Linked DNA regions of Homo sapiens: region 1 is linked to region 2. Evidence: fine-mapped expression QTL. A gene starts in region 2. The other region holds a variant in brackets. All regions are shown on one strand. Distances are between the middles of the regions. Region 1 has its middle 11 kb from the start of DEFB1. Region 2 holds the start of GS1-24F4.2 (a long non-coding RNA gene).

What was found. PIP is the estimated chance that this variant, and not a neighbour inherited with it, causes the effect.
Region 1: its variant is the best candidate, but not a certain one, in a credible set for the expression of GS1-24F4.2 in pancreas (GTEx, PIP 0.53).

The regions. Positions count from the first base shown.
Region 1 is chr8:6,865,351-6,868,143 of GRCh38, forward strand. No RefSeq gene overlaps it. Among named protein-coding and RNA genes, the nearest start is that of DEFB1, 11 kb to the right of the region's middle. The variant T/C (reference allele first, on the strand shown) is at 1,704.
Region 2 is chr8:6,833,866-6,836,884 of GRCh38, forward strand. GS1-24F4.2 (a long non-coding RNA gene) reads left to right here and starts at 1,689. Exons shown (of 3, transcript NR_045217.1): 1 at 1,689-1,752; 2 at 2,101-2,356. It overlaps XKR5 (XK related 5), which reads right to left and starts at 1,659. Exons shown (of 7, transcript NM_207411.5): 1 at 1,571-1,659. The coding sequence starts at 1,628. RefSeq lists an enhancer at 41-909.

The sequences.
Region 1 (2,793 bases), 31 kb after region 2:
CCCTTACAGGAGACCTGTTTTTGTGACTTGTCTGAAGAAGACCAGTCAGGTCAGACTTGACTAAGCCCAGGAGCAATCATTTCGGCAGTTCCCGCGTGTTTATCAGTGAACCTGGTTTTTAGAAAACAGCAAAACAAAACTGAAACAAAAACAAAATCAGAAACCCAATTAAGCAAGACTCTTTACTTACCTCCGTAGGTGTCTGGTCTCTACAGGTAGAATGAGTCCAGGGAGCTGGGAGGGGGCAGTGATGACACCTCTCTGCATGTCTGGTCTGATGTCAGTTACAATAATCAAACACGGGCCGGGCACAGTGACTCACGCCTGTAATCCCAGCACTTTGGGAGTCCGAGGAGGGTGGATCACAAGGTCAAGAGATCGAGACCATCCTGGCCAACATGGTGAAACCCTGTCTCTACTAAAAATATAAAAATTAGCTGGGCGTGATGACAGACGCATGTGATTTCAGCTGCTTGGGAGGCTGAGGCAGGAGAATTGCTTGAACCTGGGAGAAGGAGGTTGCAGTGAGCCGAGATCATGCCACTGCACTCCAGCCTGGTGACAGAGCAAGACTCCATCTCAAAAAACAAAAACAGAAAAAAACAAAAATAATAATAATCAAACACACAGCAGGACCCCTGGCCAGCTGGGGAGGGGGCCAGTGTGGGTGCGTCTTCCTGGGGCCAGCCTAGGAGAAAGTGCTTTTCCTGGGTGTGTGCCCAGGTCACCTGGCTGTGGGACATGCTTCAAGGAATGGGTCTGCCAGGTCACAGTGTTCCTGGACCAAACTGTGGGTCAGGCTGCTATTTCTTGTGGCCCAATAATGAGAGGCCAATGAACTGGGGAGGAAGAGAGTTTTTATTTCTGTAACCAGTTACAGGAAGAAGGCCTGGAAATGATAACCAGACCAACTCAAAATTACACAGTTTTCCAGAGCTTATATACCTTCTAAACTGTAGGTCTACATGTAAGTGTGCACTCATCGAAAGACATAAGTGATTAACTTCTTTTAATCTATAACTAAGGTCTCCATCCTGAAGACTTTCTTCTGGATCCTCAGTAAATTTACTTAATCTAAATGGGTCTAGGTGGTGGGGTGATTACCCTTATCTTGTCTCCTGATGAATCATAAAGGTTTGGGGAGTTCTGTAGACCCCAACAAACTTGTCTATGGAGGCCTGGGGGGTTTATTCAGACCCCCAGTAAAACTTGTTTAAACTTGAAGGTCCTGTTAAGAATCCCTTCATTATCTTGTCATGCTCCAAGGCCCACGAAAAGCCTAGAGAAAACTTTTGGTGGGCTCGTTGTTACATTCCAGCCTTTGTATAAGGGCACTGGCTCAATTAGCTTTAATGTTTAATGTAGCTGCTCAGTCAGTGCTGGGACAGTTGTAAGGGAGGCCTACATTAGTGAGACCTGGCCCACCACAACAGGGCAGCAAGGGAGGCAGGGGAGAACCAAGTAAGGTGAGGCTGAGATGGGGGGTCAGTCCCCAGCCCCATGGTGGACCTCTGGTCCTCCTGCACCTGGGTGAGCTCCAGCGAGAGCCAGGTGGCTTTCCTCTAGAGAAGAGCCTGTAACCCCTCCTGCTATGGGAGTCTCCTCCTCCTCTTCCAGGTCTTGTGGATGATGACCAGCGGGGTGATCCCCAGTGGGCACCAGTGTATTTGCCTGTCAACAAGGGAACAAGCGAATCAAGTCCC[T/C]GTGTGGTTCACGGAGGGGGAAGATCAGGTTTCACTTGTAAAGAATGGCGGGTGCTTGCACTTGGAGACTATGCCAGTGAATGTGGAGGGCTGCACCCTGACTAGGCAGCAACAGGGTCTTTAGTCTGCACACATTTGGTTAAAACATTCTACGCTGTTCATTTTTCAGAAAGGAGTCTTCCTTTAGGTGAATGAGGCACTGTCGGAGTCACTCTGAGTTCTGAGTCACCGTTCAGTCTGGGCTGGTTGGAAGAAATTGGGTTGAATCTCAGCATTCAGGTTTGACATGTTCTGGGCAAGGACTGCTCTAAATGGAAACTTTTCCCTTTCTGTTCCTTAAGGATGTGAAGAACCCAGCAGCCTTTCCTGAGGCTGTGTCTTCTGTGCACAGCATCTACTAAGGCCATTCAAAAACACCCCTCCATGGATCTTAAAGCACCCCCTTTTTCCCTTAGGAGGGGGAGTTCTGCAGCTCCTTAAGCTAAAGCCAGATGGATGCAACTAAGAGAGAAGAGAGAACTCCATGCTGCCCCCTTGGTGAATAGGCTGGGCCCAGCATGGTGCAGTCCTTAAAGAGGACCACGGTGGATGAGATGAAGCCACCAGGGCACTGTGTGTACAGAAACAGCAGGAATCAAAATGCCATATACCCGATGAGTGCAATGATGAAACAAAAAATTTATGTGCCGACTCAGATTGGAGAAGTATACTGGGAAAAACAGGCCAATAGTAGATTTGATTGGAAGAGTAGTATTTTGAGCAATTTTTGTTATAGCACTGTTTTGTATTTTGACTGATTGTGACAAGCGTGTATTTTTCTGCTGATATTTGTGGGTTCTCAGGCTTTCGTGGCATAAAACAACCTTGATCAAAAATGTGAATGGTATAAGAAGTTAGTGAATCAGCTTTCATGCCTGTCCAGAACAGAACAAAGGGGCACCCACATGACAGCTCACTAAATTTCTTTTAAAAACCTGTTGTCTTCCAAGATTTGGGACTAATAATAAAAAAGCCTCAAGTGGCTTTTGTTCATAAATTACCATCAGTCCGTGATCTAACAGAAGAGATAAAGGCAGGGGAATAACTATTT
Region 2 (3,019 bases):
AATATACGACATGTGTGAAGCGCCTAGCATCTTGTGCATCCTCGAGAACGATGAAACCTCCTCTCTGGTTTGTTTGCTTGTTTGTTTTTGATGGTGGTTACGCAGTGGAGAGAGAATGTGCACTCCGCAGTCAGTAACTCCGCACTACGAAACCGTTAGTCCCTGTGGGGTCACAGCTCTCTCTGTGGGGTCCCTTTTCTCCTACTTTCACATGGGGAACTCCCTGGCCTGGAACTCTGGGCCTCCCCAATACTCCTAGCACGGCCTCCTCAGGGTTGTCTGAGGCTGATCTTGGAGGCGGTGCGCTGGTAGAGGCACCGCACACAGGCATCGTTTCACACAACTGTTACTTAGGTTTTCCAATAGTAAAGTTCTAAGTGGATGAATGAACACAAGCCGCGGATTTTAGGGAAACTGGGAAAACTGCCCTGAGGTACAGCTGCAGACGCTGCAGCTCTAGACCGCGGGGTCCGGGCTCAGGCAGCCCTTAGCGCCCAGGCTGGGTCCGGCTGTCACCACCCCGAGCGTCCTGCGGCAGCCTCCCTTGCACGAAAAGCCTTCGGTGCTGCAGGGCTGGGGAATGCTGACACCCAGTCCGTGCCCAGCTGGAGGGCAAGGGAGGACACCTGGGGTGGGTGCCGACCCCCGCAGGTCCTGTCTCAGCCCTTCCAGTCCGGGGCGCGGAGCCAGGGCGCTTGCGCGTCCTCCGTGTGCGTCCTGCTCGGCGCGCCTCGGAAGCAGCGGGACCTGCGGGGACGCCCGCGAACTCAGGGAAAAGTCCCAAGGCGGCGTTCCCAGGGTACCCCCTCTTCCACCCCAGGGACTCTGCCCGGGAAAAAGCTTCCGCAGGGAGCCCGGCGGAAGTGGGCGGAGACGCTCCTCCCGGCACTGAAGGAGTTACGCGTTCAAACCAGAAGGGCGCGAAAAATGGGGCCATCTTGCTCCGCCGCGGCTGGCGGGCTCTGGGTTCCCCCTGCGACGGAGGTGGCCTCGAAGGGCCGCGTCCCGCCCCGTCCTAAACCCCGAAGCGGAGTCGCCGTCCTACAGGGCCGCGTGGATGCGGAGCCCTGTCCCCCTCCCCCCGCCACCCCTTCTGCGAGCGGCCTCCAAGTCGCAGGGTCCCCCTGGACGGCCGGGGGTCGGGGGAGAGCCCGGGCGCCCCCAGACTTGCGCTCAGCACATCTTGGCATCGCAGCACTTTGCAAAGCTTGTGATGGAAGGAAGGGCGGATACATCTCCCCTGCTTCTGCGAGGGGATCTTGCATGCGTGGGGCGGGGGGATCGTGCATGGGCGGGAGGAAGTCAAGCACCAGTCGGGAGGGGGGGGAACCGAGCATGGGTGGAGGAAAATCATGCATCCTTGGGGGGATGGTGCATGCGTGGGCATCTACTAAGGACGGGAGGACGTGCTCTGCAGGTGGGATGGCCACCACCGTGCGTCACCGGCGCGCAGTGCTGGGCGCAGGCTGGGGCAGTGCCCGCCCGGGCATAGGCAGCCTGTGCGGCTCCCGGCGCCGGGGTGGGGTTAGGGGCTGCAGGGGTGAGCACAGCCTCGGGCTGCCGCACTCACGCGCGCTCTGCTCGGCCGCCTGCAGCAGGGCCGAGAGCCCCAGGAGCCTCGCGTGCATCTTCCGTGCCGACCCCGCAGCCTGCGCCCGCCCCTTCCCCTGCACGCGGCCCCGCGTCGGGGAGGTTTCCGGCCCGGGGCCCGACTGCGGGTGGCATTTCTGGCTAAGCCGTTAGGCGCGAATTGTATGTCTGGTTTATTCGTAGTGGCCAGCAGGGGAGGGAGGGAGGATGCTTGGGGTTTCTGGCTTCCAGGGTGGGTGGGGACGAGGTGGTGGAGTCCAGCTCAGGTCCGGGCTCCTGATAAGGGCAGAAGCGGGTTCTGCGCTGCCCCCAACCCTGTAACCGCCAGGAAAGCGCTTGGTGAGCGTCGGGACTGCGCAGGTTCCTCGGGAGGTGGCTAAACTGGCCACCGCCTCTGGGGCCGCCTAAAGCAAGTCCGTTAACCACTAGTCAGGGAGGAATACTGTGTTTGAGTAAATATATGTAGAGTTGGGTTAGAATCATTGATTGGGTCTTTTTGAAATCTTACAGTTCTGTGTCCAGAAAACACAGGGCACGTTACCCGGTATCGTGGTCTACACCTCGCCCACAAATCCATCCCAGGCTGTATCCTCATGGAAGCTTTTTCCAGATGTGCTTGAGGGTTAAGATCGCAATGTGCAAGAAGAAAAAGTGCACATTGGAAAACCTTCTCTTCGGAGATATCTATATCTATATTTATATATATTTACAGATATGGAGATATATACACACACGTATCTGAAAACATTCTGACGTTTTAAAAACGGTAAGACAGACTTTTATTCAGAACCATTTCCTTAGATGTAAGGGACTGCACTGAGGTTTTGCAGCAGGGGAGAGAGATTGGGGTCCGAAAATAATAAGGAAAAGTGGGGATTTATAGCCAAGGAGCAGTGTGGGGGACGGTGGATGGAAAGTCATTGAGAAGGGGACATCAAGTGGGGGTTCTGGCTTCCCTGACCTAACAGGATTCCTGCTGAGGGTGGGCCAAGTTGATCCACATCGGGGATGGGGGTGGGGTGGAGCAGGTGTTGGAATTTGGTCAGATATGGAGGGTATTCAGACACCTGAGGTGGGGAATTGGGATTAAACTGACTTAGCAGGATTCTTGCTAAAACTAGACTCTGCAGGAACAGAGGAAGGAATGCCCAGGTTGGGCCCAGTCGTGCAGAGAGCTCGGAGGAGGCTGTCCAGAGTCTGATCAGGGAGACATTCTTTGTCATTCATGTATATACCCATATATTGTAATAGGCTGTTCTTGTATGACTATAAAGAAATACCTGAGACTGGGTAATTTATCAGAAAAGAAGTTTGATTGGCTCACAGTTCTTCAGGATTTACAGGAAGCACGGTGCTGGCATCTGCTCAGTTTCTAGGAAGGCCTTGGGAGCTTATGCTCATAACGGAAGGTGAAAGGGGAGCAGGCACA